Regions from separate parts of the Homo sapiens genome. Here region 1 is linked to region 2. Evidence: fine-mapped expression QTL. A gene starts in region 2. The other region holds a variant in brackets. All regions are shown on one strand. Distances are from middle to middle. Region 1 holds the start of LAD1 (ladinin 1). Region 2 holds the start of TNNI1 (troponin I1, slow skeletal type).

The links. PIP is the estimated chance that this variant, and not a neighbour inherited with it, causes the effect. A credible set is the group of variants that fine-mapping cannot tell apart.
Region 1: its variant is the best candidate, but not a certain one, in a credible set for the expression of TNNI1 in lymphoblastoid cells (GEUVADIS, PIP 0.83).

What each region holds. Positions count from the first base shown.
Region 1 is chr1:201,398,029-201,402,407 of GRCh38, forward strand. LAD1 (ladinin 1) reads right to left here and starts at 1,296. Exons shown (of 10, transcript NM_005558.4): 1 at 1,241-1,296. The coding sequence starts at 1,278. LOC101929343 (a long non-coding RNA gene) reads left to right here and starts at 1,463. Exons shown (of 2, transcript XR_241172.3): 1 at 1,463-1,762; 2 at 2,765-4,379. RefSeq lists an enhancer at 992-1,654. The variant A/G (reference allele first, on the strand shown) is at 2,092.
Region 2 is chr1:201,419,911-201,424,289 of GRCh38, forward strand. TNNI1 (troponin I1, slow skeletal type) reads right to left here and starts at 1,820. Exons shown (of 9, transcript NM_003281.4): 1 at 1,763-1,820.

The DNA.
Region 1 (4,379 bases), 22 kb before region 2:
TCCCCTCTCTAGAGCCCATGGGCTGCCCACAGTGCTTCAGAGCACTGTGAGGTCTTGAGGGTCTGGGGAGGTGGCCCCCCAGTCCCAGGCGATGAGCTGCTATGGAGAGGCTAAGCCTGAGACAATGAGGTAGTTCTGGAGCCCTTATTAAGGGAGGGCAGGAGCGGGGTAGAGGACATACTAGAGCACTGGAAAAACCTGTGAAAGATGCCTTGCTGGGGAAAGCCTACAGGACCCAAATGGCTGGAGGGTCTGCACCTGGCAGAGATAGCCCTGGCTCAGGAAAGGCCAAGACCCAAATGCCCACCTGGGAGGAGCTAAGAGGCTAATATCTACCTGGCTAGAAAGGGATCAAAAGAGCAGGCTCCAGCTCTGGGCTACCGCAGGAGCCTCAGTTTCCTTAGGGACAAGATGGGGGACGGGGGCGCCCAGTGGAGGAATGAGGTGAAAATGCTCACAGGGGGCCTTCTTGGCAGAGGTGCAGGGTCGCTCCAAGAGAAGTCGCTAGAGGTCACCAATCTCCATGAGGGGTGCTGCCTTCTGAACACCCGCCTTCCCCAGGCCTCTCGGACCCTGATGGGATGTCCAGCAGGCAGGGGTAGGATGCCTCATCCCCGACCCTTTAGGAGACCAGTGTACAAGTAAAGATTGCAGCAGCACAGATGGGGATGGCAACTATCTTAAGGTTCCCAGCCCAGATGCCACCCCAAAATGCCATGCTGAGATTCTGAGCGTCCTTAGTGGGAGACGGGTCTGCTTCCCTCCAGTCCTCTTCACTGACCCCTCCAAGACGGCTCTCCCTGCTCCCCCTCCCAAGAGGGGCTGTGGGACACCTCCCAGGGGTCCTCTCCGCCAGAGACACACGGGGGCAGTGAGAGAGGCTTCTCTCAGGAATGAGGCTTGGAGGTTACTCCTGAACACCTCCACAATCCCCCAAAACGTTCCTTCCTGCTTCCACCTTCCACAGGGGGGGCCATATCCCAGCGGGCGTCCAGACTGAGGACCAGCCTTCCCCTAAGCACCCTGTGTGGGGCCTCAGGCCCCGAGGGGAGAAGACCCACCCTGTAACCTCAGGGGTCCCGAGTTTGGCCCCAATCCTGTCTCCCGCGAGTCGCAGCAAGACCAGGATCCAGCCTCAGTGTCAGGGTCCCAGGCGGGGAGGAGGCCGGTGCCCCGAGGAGAGGAGACCCAAAGGCTCCCCGCCGACCCCCCGCCCCTCCCGGCTCCCTCCGGCGCTCACCTGGACAGCGCGGACCAGTCCTTCCTGCTGACAGCCATGCTGCAGGAGCCCCGCGTGGCCGCCCGCGCCCCGCCGGCCGCCGCCTCACCTGGCGCCCCTCCCCTTCCAGCCCAGGTGGGATCACATGGCCGCTTATCTCACCCCCGCGCGCCCCGGCCGCGCTCCGATTTGCCGACCCGGGAATGGCCTCTGGGATGTGGGCGTCCCAGACAAAGCCGCATTGATTGCAGCCCAGGCCGGCCCGGCCGCGAGGCCGCAAGCACTGGGTGGACCGTCGGACGGATCGCGGGACCGAACGACGGACGCCCGGGGCCGGCGTGGGGCTGGTCGGCTGCCCGGGGCGAGGGCGGGAGACTTCCTGCTCAGAACCAGTCCGACCAGCTTGGCGCTGGGACGCCTCCCCGCGCTGTGCCGCGGCCCGGGGTGCCGAGGAGCTGGGCTGGGGGCGGGGACCCCTGCCGGGAACCCGACTTAGCCCGGAGACGCTCAAGAGCAAGAAGCCGAGCGGAAAAGTTAGCGCAGGTACTGTGATCTCGGGTCTAGAGCGCCCGCGCCTTCGGGGCCCCTTCGCAGGGAGCGCCCTCCCCACTCCCTGGCTTCGGAACCCACCCGGGCCCACCGTCCCAGTAGGCCTCGCTGAGATGAATGAGGCATTGCTTTCTGAGCTGCACACAAAACATGCCCCTGGTAGACCCAGCCCCACCCAAAGGGAGAATCTTAGACTCAATTCAGCAAACATTTGTGAAAGCACAAATATGTCAAAGGCACTGTCCTTGCTCCCTGATACTGGACTTTGGGCTAGAGTGGCAGGGTGTATAATAAGGGCAGAGGAAGCTCAGTTTTTCTTCCCC[A/G]AGGAAAGATTAAACACAGATATCTAGGACTCGAATTTTGGAGCACCGTGAGACAGCTCAGGCACCCCTGACACCACCTGGCTCCCTTTAGGTGCCCATCTGGGCTGGTGCGGGGCCAGGTGCTTTCTATCCAGGAACCAGCCTCAGGTGGGCTTGGGCTAAGAGAGGGTCAGGCGTTGAGCATGGGGAATCTTATCTTCCCTGATGGATCTGAACTGCAGGGTCAGCGCACAGTTGCTGTTCCTGCCCTGAGAGGAAGGAGGCACAGCCCCAGCGCCAGGATGAGAATATCAAAAGGGAGCCTGAGCCAGAGCCAGAACTGCCCTCATGCTCCTGGGCCTCGCTGCCCAGCCTCAGCCTCTCTTTGGTGCTCATGTCAGGCCTTCCAGCTCTGAGATCTCACGGCAAAGGGCAAGCTAGCTGCCGGGCAGAAGCCTGGAAACACAGACACAGCCAGCCTGTTGAGATTCCCCCTCCCGAAGTACCCCCTCCTCCAGGGAGCCTTCCTTCTTGGCAAGGGTGGGACGAGGTCCAGGACATGAGAACTGGACTGGTAACTTGCACACTTGAGCTCTGATTCTGACATTTGTGAACTGTGTGACTTGGGACAAACTCCTTCAGTTTCCTTATCTGTGGAGTGGATGTTACGATACCTTGCTCTGCTTCCTTCCAGGTTGTGGAAATCATATGAGTTCCCTGCTAGTGACATTGGAGTGCACAGATGAATATCGACAAGGCTCCAGGGAGTTCTGAACAGAGGCCAAGGCAGGCCCTGGAGCTGTATGCTGCTTACAGGAAAAGAGAAAGAGGGGACCCCAATAGTCTAGGTCCCTGGATCCTCTGACCCGGGGCCTGACACTGTCAGGGAAGCTGCTGTCTCCCTAGGGACCTACTGAATGTTCTTCCCATGGCTGGTCAGTGCTGACACCTCAACACAGGAAGAGAAATACTCCTATGAAGTCATCTGAAGCCTGGTCATGCCAGGGACACTTCACGAAGGCAGGAACAGTCCTGTTTCTAAAAGCCCAAAATCTAACAGCCTCTCTACAGATATAAAAGCCCAAAGACATGGAAAGTTTGTATGCAGACAACCCTAGAAGTAAGGAAAAGTGAATGACATATATGTCAATGCCCAGAAAGTTCCTTGAGATCAGACACTGTACATTTATGGGATACTTTCTAAGTGCCAGCTACTGTACTTGGTGCTGGATCAGTGCATCCATTTCCCGGGGCTCCCGTGATGAAGTGCCACAAACTGGATGGCTTTAAACAACAGAAGTTTACTCTCTCACAGTTCTGAAGGTTAGAAGTCTGCCATGAAGATGTGAGCACAGCCAGCCTCTCTCCAAAGGCTCCAGAGGAGAATCCTTCCTTGCTTCTTCCCAGAGCTCCTTGGCATACAGCTGCATTACTCCAAGATTTGCCTCTCTTGTCACACAGCATTCTGCCTGTGTCTCTTGTTTGTGTTCAAGTATCCCTCCACCCTAATTTAGTATGACCTCATTTTAGCTTGATTATGCCTGCAAATACCCTATTTCCAAATGAGGTCACATTCACAGGTACCAGAAGTTATGAATTGAACACATCTTTTTTGGGATGTGTTCTACCCATTATAATTCATTCTACCCACTATAATCACAAGTGGCTTTGACATTCAGTGACACAAAGATGATAAGGACTCGGTTCCTGACCTCAGGACATTCTCAGTCTATCAGTGAAGACAAACACATGCTGGTGAACACACACACATACACAAGCACACATATACCCCGAGCCTCATTCAAGTCAGACTGTGATTAAAAATGGAAATTGTGTCATCAGGAGGGATTGGGGAAGTCTTCACACAAGAAAGAACATCTAAGTTGGGCCTTGAAGGGTAAGTGGAATTCAACTGTCAGAAAGGGTGTAAGGGCATCCAGCTATAGGACACAGCATAAACAAAGACATTGGGACATAAACATGAAAGGTGTGTGTGGAACAGAGAGAAGACTAGTCTGCGTGAAGCATTGAGCCCCTTCCAAGGCTGAAAAGAAAGGTTGGAGACAGGTAGTAAGGACTTTGTGTGTTGTGCTAAAGAGTCAGTCAGCCTTGGCCGGTTATGGAGACTCACACGTGTAATCCCAGCATTTTAGGAGGCTGAGGCGGGCAGATCACTTGAGGTCAGGAGTTCAAGACCAGCCTGGGCAACATGGCAAAACCCCATCTCTACTAAAAATACAAAAAATGAGCTGGGCGTGGTGGCACACATCTGTAATCCCAGCTATTTGGGAGGCTGAGGCAAAAGAATC
Region 2 (4,379 bases):
GGCAGCTGCTTATTCTTAGGGCTCTGCTTCTCCAAAGACACTGAGGAAGTCCAAAGGAAACACCAGCTGGCGAAGAGCCACCTCCAGGCCCATCTGTCCATCATCAGCCTCCAGGAATGCCAGTGTCCAGAGGGCACCAGGTCTGCGTCTGTCTCCCTGGGATGTGCCTTGTCCTTGGTGGGCATTTGGCAGTGATCATGCCTCCCTGTCTCCCTCAGAGATCCAACTGTCCCCATTGTGGGGCCCTACCTTCCAAGGCCGGTTTACACCTCCTGCCAAGCTCCGGGGCCTGCCCCCAGCCTGCCTCACTGACAAATGCCAGACCAAGGGGTCCCACGTCAGGCAAGAGGCCTCAGCCTGTGCTCTGACACCCCTCAGACGGGGGCCCTTGCCAGGCTCTGTGGAAGACAAGCGAGGACTGATAAGTCAGGATGAAGATAGCAGCCACTGGAAGGCTTGGAGAGCCAGGATTCCATCTCCTCTACAAGTAGCAAGCAAGGAGATAATGAGAAAATCCTCCCCCCGAGGGGGGGAGCAAAGAGTCTCTGGTGGTTGCCTCAGAGCTGGGCTTTCCCTTCCTTGAGGCTTTGCAGCGTGGAAGGGACTATCCGCTAGACTATGAGATTGAGTCTGTGTGTGTAAGTGTGTGTAAGTGACTGTGTGTGAGAGTGTGAGTGTGAGAGAGAGAGCGTGTATATGTAGGGGAAAGAACTGATCTCTTTGCACACCCAATGATCACGTCCACAAGTATCTAGTTAGGCTCATGTGCTTCCCCCTGCTCCCCGCCCCCTGACCTTGGACCCCCATTCAAGGGCATCCCTGTCTTCCTTGACTGACGGTTAACACTCCCAAGTGCATGGCGCTGGGCTGCCCCCATCTTGAGTTCTGAACAGCAAAGCCTAATCTCAGAGCTGCTGTGGGACTGTGACTCCCAAACCTGGTGGCAGGTGCTGCCTTCAGCCCCCACCTGAGTCAGGGACCGCCACACGGCCCCCTGCCCCAAGCCTTGGGTTACCCTGTAGATACTGCCCTGGCTTATGTGTTCACTGGCTCCTGTGCCCCAACCCAAAATGCCGCCACCATTGCCTTCCTCCAAGAGGACCCCCAGTATCTACTGCTGCTTCTCAGAGCCAGGAGCTCTGAGCAGGAGCAGTCAAGAGGGGTTGCCGGTCTGCCCTCCTCTGCTCTTGTGCTACACTACAGAGGGATAGGCAAAGGGAGCTAACAGCGTCGCTCAGAGACAAAGAACACAGAAGCAAGATGGTTTCCTTGGCCAGCAGGGAGCTCTGGCCCTGCCTTCTAGGCTCCCTGGGAGTCCTGCGCGTCAGGCACCCTCCTTCTCTTCCGCTGCAGGCATTGCTGACTTTGAGCACTCACCCTGGCTCTCTGATCCCAGGGCCACCCCTTCCCCTGGGTGCGCTCTCCCTCCCACACTCTGCTGGGCATCCTGTGTGAAAACATCATCCCTTAGGCTCTGCCCTGGGGCTCCTAAGGAACCTCACGGAAGATTCTGCTCCTTGCTCACAGCCTCCAAATGGCCAGGAAAAAGTTTCACCTCTCACAACAGTTTTGCAGGAGAGATGCCATTCTGTGGGACAAAATGCTGTGGGAGTATTTTAGGAATGTTCTACCAACAAACCAACTGCACAGGCAAGAAATGGTTTTCTCCAGCTCCAAGACCTCGCTTTCTCCTTAAACAAAAGCCCCAGGTTCTCTGCCTGGGATCAACCTACATCTGAAGTTCTGGGCTGCAGACGCTTACCTTGTTCAGTCCTCGTGGAGCTGGGCTGGCCTGTGCCTCGCCGTAGACTGCAGACTGTGAGGGGCAGAGCCGAGGGGAGGCTATGAAAACTGTGTCCAGCAGCAACTGGCTGGTAAAAATAGAACAGACCCACTGCCCCCTCCTGCTGCCCCTCCTCCCTCCCACCCTTCACACACACACACACACACACACACACACACACACACACACACACCTCACAGGGCAGATGCGTGCTGCAATGCACACAACAGGCACATAGGCGGAAAGCCATGTGAATTTGTGGCTCAGGAGCAGAGGCAAATTCTGTGCACATAGGTGCCACCAACTGAGTGAAACCAGCACCCACCTGGGGAGACTCGAGCTGCAGAAAGGGAAAGAATGAGCAGCCAGACCAGGTGTGGGGACTGAGCAGAGATGGGACTGGGAGGGGGAATGAGGGAGAGCAAAGGGCCACAGTGAAGGCCCAGAGGGGCAAGTAGCAGCTGGGGGAAGAGGACCATTGGGCTAACCCTGCATCTCTTATAAGGCAATATGGAAATGAGGCCCCTGAACCCATGCCCCAAAAGCCCAAGAGGGCTAAAGACTCAGCTTTCAGGGATTTTTCAGTGGCTCTGGTGCACGTGGGATACGAGGGTGCCTGGCTGTGGGGAGTGATGTGAGCAGTGTTGCAGGCTGACCCCAGTGAGTGTTTCCAGGGCTGAGCAGAATGGCAGTGGCAGCAGGGCACACCTTTATGCTCAGGGAGGTCTGAGGGTCTGCAGACACTCTGCATCCCCCTCCAGATGGGTTTCCTGGAATCTAGATTTCCCAGGTTCCAAAGGACACCCGAGTCTCATGCCTGGAACTCAGTGAGACTAATTCACCTCTCCTCTGCCCTAATCTTCATCTCCAGCCAGAAGCCAACAGATCCCAGGGGACTGGAGCCACAGGGGCTGCACCTGTTTACCGGGTATTTTTAGGATGGTTGATGAACACATAATACCCACCCTATAGTCAGAGAAAGACAATGCCTGCTATGTTAATCCTGTGGCTATTATAGTCTGTCATCTCATGGGTTGGGGCAGGACACTGACCCTCTCAGAGGCCAGAGAGAGGCCTCGCAAGCAGGAGGTTAGGGAGCCCCAGCCATGCTCCCCATTTGGAGAAGGAGAGAGTAATGGGCAGGGGTGTCCTAAGGAGACACACCCCAGTGCCCACAGAGGTAAAGGCCCTGCCCTCTCTACAACGACATTCTGCTGCCTAATAGAGGTTGCTCTAATTCTGTTCTGGTCGGGTCAACTTTGAGAAGCCTCTATGTGAGACGGCTGCCAGGGAGAAATGACAGGGTCTGGGGAGGCATAGGGGTTGGGGACATAGGATTCCAAGTGGAGAGGCTGTGATGGATAATGAAGGCAGGCTCCAGCCAAAAGGAGCAGCTAGAGGGGAGAAGGAATTTAGGGGCTTTGCAGATGAGCCTACTGGAGTTTATTGCCTTGGCTTATTATAATTTATACAATAACTTTCCATTTATTTATTTATTTATTTATATACTTTTGGAGACAGAGTCTCACTCTGTCACCCAGGCTGGAGTACAGGGGCTCTGTCACCCAGGCTGGAGTACAGTGGCTCACTGCAACCTCCACCTCCCGGGTTCAAGTGATTCTCCTGCCTCAGCCTCCTGAGTAGCTGGGACTACAGGCACGCCACCATGCCTGGCTATTTTTTATATTTTTAGTAGAGATGGGGTTTTACCATGTTGGTCAGGCTAGTCTCAAACTCTTGGCCTTGAGCAACGCACCTGCCTCGGCCTCCCAAAGTGCTGGGATTACAGACATGAGCTACCATGACCAGCCTATACAATAACTTTCTTAAAAGGCCTTGATATTCTCAAAAAATGAATTCTCTGCATGAATTATCCTGCTTTTTGAAAAGGAAAAACAAAAGAAGACAGTTCGACAAATAGAAGAACAAAGCAGGGTGAACAAAAGCCAAGAAAGTAGGTGGCCGGATGTCCGCAGCAAGACGTGGAGAACATAGTGCAGCCAGGGGCCCTCCCTGGGCAGGAGCCATGGAGAATCTCAGACTCGGAGTGATTCATCTTCACACTCTGTTGGACAGCATGGGACCAGGACCCCTCACCCCAGTGTCCCAATTCCATCCCCACCATCCCTGCACACCATGTGGAATCCAGCCTCCAGCTCACCCTCTCAGATCCACCCTGACCTTTGACCCCAGTTCACACACTGACTTCTTTAGCGTCTCTCTCCTGCAGTCTCTCAAAGGTGGCCTTCAAAAGCAAGAATGCAGTGCCCTGTTGTCCTTGCCCCTGACCCCCATCTTCCTTCATGTATGGAGTGGGTGCAGAGCAGGCCTCAATGATTCAGGCCGCCCACACCCAGCTGAGGGGCCGCCACTGGAGGTCTTAGCCCTGTGGCCCACTCACTGCCCCAGCCAAGTGCGCCTCTGCAGCCTTTCTCCTCCCCTCCTTGCCTACAGAAAAGGTCACCCCTTCTCAGTGCACATCTGCCCTGGGGCCAGGCTTCCTATTCTCCCTGCAGAGCAGGCACAGCTGTCCCAGAGCTGAGGTTCTGTCTGACTCAGATGCTTACTGGTCAGGGAGGACCCTTCCTAGACACAG